2 separate regions of the Homo sapiens genome follow, and region 2 is linked to region 1. The links come from fine-mapping of genetic effects on plasma protein levels. Region 1 holds a variant in brackets. A gene starts in the other region. All regions are shown on their reverse strands.

Region 1 (5,510 bases):
GGTTTCTTCTAAGCGGCAAAGCACTTTTTCAAAAACGATTTTGCATGGAACCCCAATAAGGGGGCAGATGGGGCGGCAGTGTGTGTGGCTGGGGCCGCAGGAGCCCTGCCCAACCCCCTCCGCCTTCCCCATCACTCCCAGAAGGCCACTGCAGGCACCCACTTCATAGCTCAGAGAGGACTGGGACCTACCTGGGTCACATGGCAGCCCAGGACAGAGTGAGGATGGGACCTCCGTTCCTACCCCAGGAGCCTCTGCCGCTGGTCCCCCAGGAGACGTGGGCCCAGGAAAAAACCGGCTTCTTAAGCCTGTGTGCCCGCCAGGACCTGAGCTCTGCCTGCCTGCCAAGACCAGGGCTCAGTCTGCCCTGCTTGCCGGGATACAGGCTCGTTCTGACGGTGGAGGGTGGGTGCTTTCTCTCTGCCTGTTCTGGGGCCTAAACACAAACCCCCTGCCCCTGGTGCCCCCCGGCCTTGGCAGACCCACCAGGGACTCTCATTTCCTGCCTTGGCCACCTACCAGCTCTGGGGCCTCGGGCAAGTTTCTGGACCTCTCTGTGCCTAGTTTTCTTGGCTGTGAAATGGCTTCATCACTGTCCCCACCTCCGGGGTTTGTGATAAGGATTCCATGGGATGTGGCGGACACAGTGCCTGTCACATGAAAACCAATTAATAAAAATGGGCCGGGCGCGGTAGCTCACGCCTGTAATCCTAGCACTTTGGGAGGCCGAGGCAGATGGACAGCCTGAGGTCAGGAGTTCGAGACCAGCCTGGCCAACATGGCGAAACCGCGTCTCTACTAATAATACAGAAAAATTAGCGGAGTGTGGTGGTGGGCGCCTGTAATCCCAGCTACTCGGGAGGCTGAGGCAGGAGAATTGCTTGAACCCTGGAGGCGGTGGTTGCAGTGAGCCAAAATCACACCACTCTGCTCTAACCTGGGCGACAGAGCGAGACTCTGTCTCTAAATAAATAAATAATAAATAAAAATGACAACGCCAGTGATGCCTGCAGCAGCAAAGCCTTGCAGGCCCCAGCGAACACTGGCTGTGTTGGGCACAGCTCTAGGTGCTTCCCAGACAGCACTCAGTTGATCCTGGGGCCAGAGCCATCATTCAGCTATTTTTACTTGAGTAAACTGAGGCACAGGGAGGGCAAAGTGCCTTCCCCCGGGTCACAGGCTCAGAAGGGCAGGGGCAGGCCAGGGCCGCGCCTGTCAGAGCCCGAGGCGGCTTCCTGCCGTCCCTCCTCCTCCTCCTCCTCCTCTTCCTCCTCCTCCTCCTCCTCCTCCTCCTCCTCGCACTCCTGCCCCGAGAGGAAACCGCCAGGCCTCCGGCGGACGTCCCTTTCTTTCTGCTTCCCCTTTCCCACACCCGGAGGCATGGGGGTGGCTCCTGCATCCCCGCCCAGGCTCTGGGCCCAGAGCCCGACTCCTGTGGCCTCCCCGGGTCTCAGTTTCCTCCTCTGTAAAGGAGGTGTGAGGGCGGTGCCACCTGGAAGAATCACGGCAAGGACGGACGGGCACGGCCCTCCTGTGCCCAGGCAGGGTCACAGCCCACCCAGAGGGAGCTGCCCACCTGTGCCTCTGCCTCCCCTGCAGACCCAGGCACACCCAGGAACTGAGGCCCCCAAGGGATGGGTCACTCATCAGACACCCGGGCTCCTGTGCTATCTCTTGGGGGGACTTTGTGCTCCCAAAATCAAGGTCAGAGTGGCCTTGTTCCAGGGCTTCTGGGTGCCCCAAATGTCTCCTGCCAGAAGGGTGGGCCCGAGGCTGCCCCTCACCTGCCCTATCAGTGCTTACCGTAGCCTGCCCCCCATGACACTTCCCATTTTACAGAAAACTGAGGCCCAGCAAGGCCAAGTCACACACCAGGGACACCTGGCTCGAAAGGGGATGAGTGGGGATGGCTCTGAAGCACATTTACCCCCGAGTCGCAGCCACTCCTACCCAGACCACTGCCTCCTGGGCACTCAGGCCTGTGATGCAGCGGGGGGCTCAGGGCTGAGGGCTAAGTCCCCCTGAGGCATCCCCCAGCCCCTCTTCTACCACTTCTCCAAGCTGGGCATCAGAGGCCATGGGTGGGATGTGCCAGGCAGAGTCCTCTGTGCCAGGTGAGGGGCGCTGGCCAGCCCCCTCCAGGCCTCGGTGTTGGCATCTATAAAATGGTGGCATTGGATAAAATGGCCACAGGAGCTTTTCCTAGTCCAAGAGCCCAAAACAGGTGCCCCCACCCATGCAGGGCCCTAGTTAACAGTGCCATCAATAATACTGACAGTAAGTCCTTCTAAGGACTCACTGCTCACAGGGGCAGCCAACTGCCCAGGTTCCAAGCCCCTCTCAGCCACAGGGGCTGTGAGACCTTGGGAAAGCCACCTAAGCTCTCTCAGACCTAGTCTCCCCATCTGTGAAATGGGCCTAATGGCGCAGCTACCCTCACAGGGCTGCTGTGAAGATAAAATGAAGCCAGGTCAGTAAAGTGCCTGCTGTATAAGGAAAGCCCAATAAATGGTGGTTTAAAGGGCATTTATCAACAGCTAGAACTCCATCATGTCCTCCACTGTACAGATGAGGGAAACTGAGGCTCAACCTCCAGAACCACCAGGGCTGGCAGGACTTCAAGACCATCTCAGCTAATCCATGCCTGGGCATATGTGGAAACTGAGGCCCGGCAGGCTGGGCATGCTCCATTTGAAATGGGAGCCCCACCTCCCCGGGAAGGTCTGGGGCCCAAGGCCAGCTACTCCAGCCTAGCAGCTGCTTCTGGAATCTTTCTCCTTCCCCAGGGCCCCCACTGCTGTCGCCTCCCCGTCAGGCTCTACTGCTGAACCAGTGGCAGCACAGGCCAGGCTGGGACCCCCTCCAATGCCGGCCTGGCACCGCCAGATCCTCTGATTTTTTTTTTTTTTTTTTTTTTTTTTTTTTCCTGAGATGGAGTCTTGCTCTGTCGCCCAGGCTGGAGTGCAACGGTGCAATCTCAGCTCACTGCAACCTCCACCTCCTGGGCTCAAGTGATTCTCCTGCCTCAGCCTCCCGAGTAGCTGGGATTATAGGCACACGTCACTGTG[G/C]CCAGCTAATTTTTGTATTTTTAGTAGAGACTGGGTTTCACTATGTTGGCCAGGCTGCTCTTGAACTCCTGACTTCAAGTGATCCATCTGCCTTCGCCTCCCAAAGTCCTGGGATTACAGGTATGAGCCACCGTGCCCGGCCGATCCCCGGATTCCATAAGAGAAACCAGAAGTCTGGATTCTGTGAAATCTCTCCACTTTAGGTTGTAAATGTGGCAACCAGTGCAATTTCCTTTTCTTGTAACTGCCAGGTGAGACGCACACCTCAGGCCCAGCCCAGCCTGGAGCTGGGTTATACACTCTCTGGTTTGAACCAGTTCAGCAGGGGGCCAAGGGCTTGGGGTTAGGGGCCCCTTGGGATCAAGAGTTCCTGTCTCAGGGTTCAGATCCCCTTCACTTCATGATCCCAGGCAAGTCTCTTTGCTTCTCCCAGTGCCTCAGTTTCCTCATCTGTCAAATGGGTCAGTGAACTCCAGCTCATGGGAAGGTCCAAGAATTTAGGGCAACACCTGGCACACAGAGGCACACATTCAGGGCCATGAATGTTGGGGCTCAGAAAACAACACCCCAAAGAAAGGTGCTGTGGCATGCTACGTACTTGAACTAAAGAAGACTAGAAGGGCTCAGAAGGGGCCCTCAGAAGCAAAGTCTCTCTCACCTCCTTCTGCCTTCCTGTCTCTCTCACCCTCCTTCTCCCCTGAAGTGAGTCATAGAAACTAGGCGGCTGGGCACAGTGGCTCACGCCTGTAATCCCAACACTGGGAGGCCGAGGCAGCAGGATCACTTAGGGCCAGGAGTTTGAGGCCAGCCTGGGCAACATAGCAAATCCCCATCTCTCTTAACAAAAAAAAAAAAAAAAAGATAAAAGAAAAACGGAACCAGAATTCTTCCTCAAGGTGGGTCATAGAATCTAGAACCCCTCTCCCTGAAAGCCAGCCATAAAACCTAGAAATATAACTCTAACCTTCCCCTACCTTCCTGGGTAGGAGCCATCCACAGAGAAATTCTCCAACCTACCTTGTCTGAGGGAGGCAGGTTGTAAGTTCCAGAGAGGTCCTGCCCTACACTGGGAGGAAGGAACACCATGCAGAGGCCAAGAGGAATGGGAGCAAGCAGGCCTTGCTGGGACCCCGCCTCCGTCTAGCTCAGTAGATCACACCCTTTCATCCCAATCCCATTTTTACGCAGCTATCCCTGCTCCATCAAACCTAAACACCAGACAGACCATTTCCTGGGGTCTTTCGGTCTTCATTCCTGAAAGCTACATGTCACATAAAACTTTGATTCAATAACTTTGTGATGCTTTTCTCTTGCTGACCTGTCTTGTTGCAAGAGTGTCGGTCGTGAGCCCGATGATGGGTGATGAAAGGCATGTCACCTTTCCCCCACATAAACACACTGCTCCCCTGTCCTTGCCCTGCCTGGGGCTCAGCGGTGCCCAGGGGAAGGAGGTCTCTAGAGGAAATCATGTCATACTCTCCCATCGCGGGCCTGAGCTGGGAGACCACAGGTAGCCTGGAGGGTCCCTTGCACCCACTCCCACCCGCAGGTGGCCCCAGCAAGTGTCTCAGGCCCTCTAGGCCTAAATCCTCCAATTGTTCCCACTGCTCTTAATGTAAAACCTAAAGTCCCCACTGTGGCCCACAAGGGCCTCTGCAATCCAGCTCCACTACCTTTGTAGTCTCACCTTTCCCTGTTCCCTCGAACCCCAGGCTGCCTGGCTATTCCACAGACTTGCCTGGTTCACGCTCACTGCAGGGCTTGTGAACCTGCCATTCCTCAGCCTGGGACTCCTTCACCCAGATCTATCAGGACCGGCACCTCCTGCCAAGAGGCCTTTGCTGACCAACCCCAGGGAAGGCAGCCCCCTCCCACCTCCCAAGGGCCCACGCTGCCCACCTGCAGTGGCCACTGAGACCAGAGAAAGCTGGGACTTTTCTCCCCTTCTCCTGACCTTGGAAAACACAGACATCTCCTCCACCCACACCCCCACCCCTGGCAGACTGTGGCCTCCCCTTGCACACCCCCAGTCACAGAGTGCTCTCTCCCAGCGCAGCCCTCATAGTGCCCCTGGAGGTGCTACACCATCACCCTGCTCCACAGGCCCGCGGTCACACAGCAGGTCGGGGGCAGAGCTGGGGCCCAACTGCAGGTGAGGCTCACCTGTGGGCTGAGCCCACCTGGCCTCAGACTTCTGGGCAGCTGCCTTCTCTTGGCTCTCTCCCTCCAAAGCCTCTTCCAGCCCTGGGCAGCAGGGCCTCCACCAGGCTGGCACTGGGATTACATCTGCTCCCTCTCCTGCAGGGCACCCTTTAAGTGACAGACCGCAAGTGCAGATCCAAAGCTTAAGCCCTTCGCCACCACCCACTGGTTGTCAGAACTTTCTTTTCCTTTTGTTTAAAACTGTTCCCAGAGCCAACCCCTGGGTCAGAGGTCAGGGAT
Region 2 (5,000 bases), not on the chromosome of region 1:
TGTAAGATGGCAAGTTATCTCTTTTTTTCTTTTTTTTTTTTTTTTTTTTTTTTTGAGACGGAGTCTCGCTCTGTCGCCCAGGCTGGAGTGCAGTGGCGGGATCTCGGCTCACTGCAAGCTCCGCCTCCCGGGTTCACGCCATTCTCCTGCCTCAGCCTCCCAAGTAGCTGGGACTACAGGCGCCCGCCACTACGCCCGGCTAATTTTTTTTGTATTTTTAGTAGAGACGGGGTTTCACCGTTTTAGCCGGGATGGTCTCGATCTCCTGACCTCGTGATCCGCCCGCCTCGGCCTCCCAAAGTGCTGGGATTACAGGCGTGAGCCACCGCGCCCGGCCATCTCTTTTTTTCTTTTTTTTTTTTTTTTGAGACAGAGTCTTGTTCTGTCATCCAGGCTGGAGTGCAGTGGCACAATCTTGGCTCACTGCAACCTCTGCCTCCCAGGTTCAAGTGATTCTCGTGCCTCAGCCTCCCAAGTAGCTGGGACTACAGACGCACGCCACCATGTCTGGCTAATTTTTTGTATGTTTAGTAGAAATGGGGGGTTTTACCATGTTGCCCAGGCTGGTCTCGAACTCCTGAGCTCAAGCAATCCACCCACCTCAGCCTCCCAAAGTGATGGTATTACAGGTGTGAGCCACCATGCCTGGCCTGCAAGTTACCTCTTGATTTAAAATATTTTCCAATCATGAAGGAAATTGACTTGATTCTGCTACTTCCCTCCACCTCTGACTTTGGGGGTAGGGGACAGATAAGCAGAAACTGCTGAACATGACCCTCAGCCGGCTGGGCAGCCATCCCTCAGCCACAGTGAGCTTGATTTGCGTGTTCCAGTAGGAAGCAAGGAGTCAGGTCCTTCTCTAGTCCTGGGGAACAGGAGAAGGGTGGGGGAACCCCTGATTCCTCCCCTTCTGTAGCCAAAGCAGACTAGTTTAGGGAGGAGACAGGGAAACCACCAGAGCAGGTCAAGATCAACCTGAAGGAAGTGGGAGTCAGGGACAACCTACTAAAGGAAGTGCATGTGTGCCTTGTACATGCATGGGGTGGACCAAGGAAAAGATTTACCCTAAAAGAACAAAGTATGCTCCGACAAATCTATTGAAAGGAATGATTTACACTGGTGCTTCCTGCCCAAATGTTGAGACCAATGGCCTGGTGCTTCCTTCTTGAAACTAGGTTGCTCTACTTACATGAAACAAACTGGGCAGAGGTCAACCGTGAGAGCCTGAGCCTCCCCAAGTAAACAGCAAAAGATTCCCCAGGCCCAACAGCCCCCACCCCCACCTTCAAGGAAAGTGGATCTACCCGGAGCACGTAGGCCAGAGGAGGCAGGAGAAGAGGGTCAGTCCGTGAGCTCCGGGTACCTGGAGAACATGAATCTCCCGGGTGTACTGTCCCCATGAGGGTCACCGAGGAACCTATGGATCTTCCACTCTTCGCCCAGAATGTCTTCCCTCTATCCCCTCCACCTCCCCAAATTCCAGCACCAGGGGCCACCTCAGAGCCACAAATCCTGAAAGGACCACCCAGGTGACTCGGGCCCACACACCCCTCTTTCGGGGTACACTTGGTGGCAGGCTAGCAGGCTTTTGGCCTCAGCTGGTGGTGCCATATAACCAGATTCGTCACAGAGACCCATTTTTTATCAGTCCCAGGCCAGAAGTACGAAGACTGATCTTAACGATGTGGCCTGCCTGGGAGGTAAGGCGGCAGGCGTTGCCAGAATTGATGGGAACTGTGGCACAGGTGGGAAACCTGGTTTAACAAATTCTTCATTGATTCAGGGGACCACTTTCCTTGAGCCAAGTCTTGGCAAGCGGCCGGCGAAACTCACAGGTCCCTTTCCTGGCTGCGTCCCCAGCCTCCAGCCTTCCCCGCCCCAGAGATGCCCCAGGAGCGGCCCCTCGGTGTAGGTAACGGGTGCCCGGGCGGCTCCGCTCCGCCGCCTAGAGCCTGGAAGCCGCCACTGCGGCCCAGGACAATCCGGCTACGCGGCCGGCGCCGACCCCGCACGCTGGAGTCCGCTGCCGCACGGCGCTGGCAGTCGGGGGTGGTGTCTGAAGTCAGGCGCTTCCTGCCTTTTCGTCGGCCCGGGTGCCCGGCTCGCGCCGCCAGGCTCTGGGATCCCAGGTCGCCCCGCCCAGCAGCCCGCGCCCTGCTCGGTGCGCTCAGCGTCCCCGCCCCTTACCCCAAACCCCCACCCTCTGTGCCCTCAGGGGGGCACCCCCATCGGGGCGGGAGGGGGGGGTCAGCTGTGCCCCGGTCGCCGAGTGGCGAGGAGGTGACGGTAGCCGCCTTCCTATTTCCGCCCGGCGGGCAGCGCTGCGGGGCGAGTGCCAGCAGAGAGGCGCTCGGTCCTCCCTCCGCCCTCCCGCGCCGGGGGCAGGCCCTGCCTAGTCTGCGTCTTTTTCCCCCGCACCGCGGCGCCGCTCCGCCACTCGGGCACCGCAGGTAGGGCAGGAGGCTGGAGAGCCTGCTGCCCGCCCGCCCGTAAAATGGTCCCCTCGGCTGGACAGCTCGCCCTGTTCGCTCTGGGTACGTACGCCGGCTGCGGCGCCCCCTGCGCCGCGCGACACCCTGCTTCCCCCGGTCCCCGCCGAGTTCCCCTTTCCGGGGGTTTCTGCGCCCGCCTGGGAGAGTGGAGAGAAGCGAGTAGTCTCAATGGGTTGGCGCCTGGGAGGCAAGGGGAGTCATTAAGAATGACAAAGAGGGGACTGTCCGGTCGAGCGCCGAGGCTTCCCCGGGAAAGTGGCTGCCTGGGCCGTGCGTGAGAACACCTGGGAAGGGGAAGCGGAGTGTGAACGGGCTTGAACTTTAATCCGCCGCAGCTGTGTGTCTGCTCAGACACATGCCTACACCTACCTGCTTACCTGGCTGCCTCCAAGCCCGGCTCAGCCGGCGTCGCTGGCGTGTAGACTGGGCCGCCTCGGAACGGGGGCCGGCGTCTAACCCTCTGGCCGGGTCTTGCCTGCGCCCCTTTGGCACCCCCTGCCCACCTCTAAGCCCCAGCGACGAGCAGAGATGTTCAAGATCGGCAGAGGCGCCCTCGATCTCTTTTCAGAGCTCTTGAGCTTTGGGGGTAGGTTTTGGATTTTTGGGCGGATTAATGGTTCCTTTAATTAACTTCCCTGGGAGAAGTGGTTTCGGTGTCCGCCGAGGGCAGGAGCGAAACCCTAGACCGAGTGTTGCCAGTTTCCTTTGAGTATGTCCTTGGAAATGAAGGAGGGATGGGAAAGGTGAGGGGAAGTTAAACCCCTCTCCCGGGTCGGGTCTGCGGAGCGGTGCGTTTTTTGGCGGTGAAGTTCAAGGGTCTGTCTGGACGCGGTGAGGGCGCAGCGCCGCGCGCCTCCTGGCCAATTCTTGCCCCTTGTGCTGGTGGGTCTCTCTGGTGTTGAGATAGCTGATCAATAGCGCAGGTGTCCTGGTTATTGCTAGTCTTCCGTGAAGTGAATTGTTCGTTCGATATGCCCCGAGTTTAACCCGTATAGCATGCGGCTCGCTGCAGGGTGGTTAGAGTCTGTGGAAAGCCATGGAACTCCTCCCCAGAAATGCCCAGAGCCGCAGCCTCACCCAGCTCCGTGTACAACTACAGGGGGTTCGCGGCCCCGCCTGCAAGCCTGCCCTAGAAACGCTGATTAAAAACCGCAGCAGAAGGGGAGGCATCCTGTAAGAGAAATACAAGGCAGTCTTGGAACCGGATGCTCCCAGCTACACCCTTACCTGAAACTCACCAGCAGGTAACATGGGTATGGGAGGCTTTTCCCCCACATTTTTGAAGAATTGCCTTTTTTGTGTGCATGTATTGACTGTTGCTCTGATTTAAATTTTAGAAAAAGCAATAAAACATTACCAATACAAGGGAAGCTTCCTGGATATAATTATCCCTTGTAATGTTTTTGCAAATAATAGTAGTAAGTAGTAGTAGTAATAACAGCTGATGCTATTCGAGCATTTTACTCTGTGTCAGACACAGTCCAAGTGCTTTACATTTATTCATGCAGTTTTCACACCAACCGGATAAAGAAGGTGTTAATATTATTCTCATTATATAGCAGAGGAAAGTAAAGCACACAGGGTCCACAGTAAGTAACTGGACCAGGATTGTCGAAGAACGTGGAAGGAATGTGAATATGAAAAGTCACCTAACTTGTGGTCATTATAGTCCCATCTCTCTTTTGGGACTTTGCCTTAAAGAGAGATTATGTGGAATACCCTGGAACTTGTTGTTAAATTGAGTTTCCTATTGAATTCCTGGGATCTCAAGGTGGTTATTCGGTAAAAATTAGAGGCAGGAAATGATGAAGATAAGCACATTTGAGTAAGTGTTTGAAAGCTGTCCCTACACCCCACACTCCCATCCCAGAATTCTCGCCCACAAAGACTGCATTCATTCATCATGTAATTTTTCTCTTTTGCCTGAATGTTCTTTTCAGCTTGATCTTTGTTTCCTTCTTTAAGAAAATGATGTATAAACTTTAAAAGATTGATCAATATGTAAAAACTTGCTCACACAGTTCCAAAATGTGAGCAGTTGAAAAAAGTGGAGAAAAAAAAAAGGCAGGAGTAATTTACACCAGTGAGGACTCCTTTTTATTTATATGTCTTTAAAAGAAAAATCACAGCTGTGAGTTCTGTGCGTTTACTAGAACTGCTGCCTCCCACATATAGCTTTACTTTGCACATTTCCTTCAAAGCTGCTTTCCCCTCTGATTTTTCTTAAATAGTTGAAGGCAGTTCCAGGAGAATCAACCAGTGTTCCATCGCTACCCGAGATCTAGGAAACCTCCGTGGGGCTAGTCTGAGAAGGAACTGGCTGTTAGGAGTCTCGGTTAATGTTTGATTACTTGGAACCTGAGCATTGATTAATGTTTTCAGTAAGAGAATGTGAAGACTGTTGCCCAAATGGCAACACTGGAAACATAACCCAGGTTCCTGTGGTGGCTGCCCTCCCATGTCAGGTTTCCATCACTGGCAGGCAGACCGCACGGGGGCTTGGCATTT

Which allele goes with the higher level. Alleles are on the strand shown, and positions count from the first base shown. The strength of an association depends on the size of the effect and on how common the allele is.
As copies of G replace C in region 1, the plasma level of the protein whose gene starts at base 2,436 in region 2 goes up (weak association).

Evidence for each region. A credible set is the group of variants that fine-mapping cannot tell apart. PIP is the posterior inclusion probability: the model's chance that the variant is causal. Protein levels are from antibody-based Olink assays in UK Biobank. Linkage for the fine-mapping came from a reference panel and not from the study's own genotypes, which makes the PIPs less certain.
Region 2: TGFA starts here. The variant in region 1 is the best candidate, but not a certain one, in a credible set for the plasma level of the TGFA protein (UK Biobank, PIP 0.50).

The regions. Positions count from the first base shown.
Region 1 is chr12:111,424,804-111,430,313 of GRCh38, reverse strand. All of the region lies in intron 2 of SH2B3 (SH2B adaptor protein 3), which reads right to left. Among named protein-coding and RNA genes, the nearest start is that of SH2B3, 22 kb to the right of the region's middle. RefSeq lists an enhancer at 4,228-4,803. The variant G/C (reference allele first, on the strand shown) is at 3,069.
Region 2 is chr2:70,551,262-70,556,261 of GRCh38, reverse strand. It overlaps TGFA (transforming growth factor alpha), which reads left to right and starts at 2,436. Exons shown (of 6, transcript NM_003236.4): 1 at 2,436-2,534. The coding sequence starts at 2,495. It overlaps LOC124907824 (a long non-coding RNA gene), which reads right to left and starts at 3,554. Exons shown (of 2, transcript XR_007086906.1): 1 at 2,870-3,554. RefSeq lists a silencer at 2,306-2,375.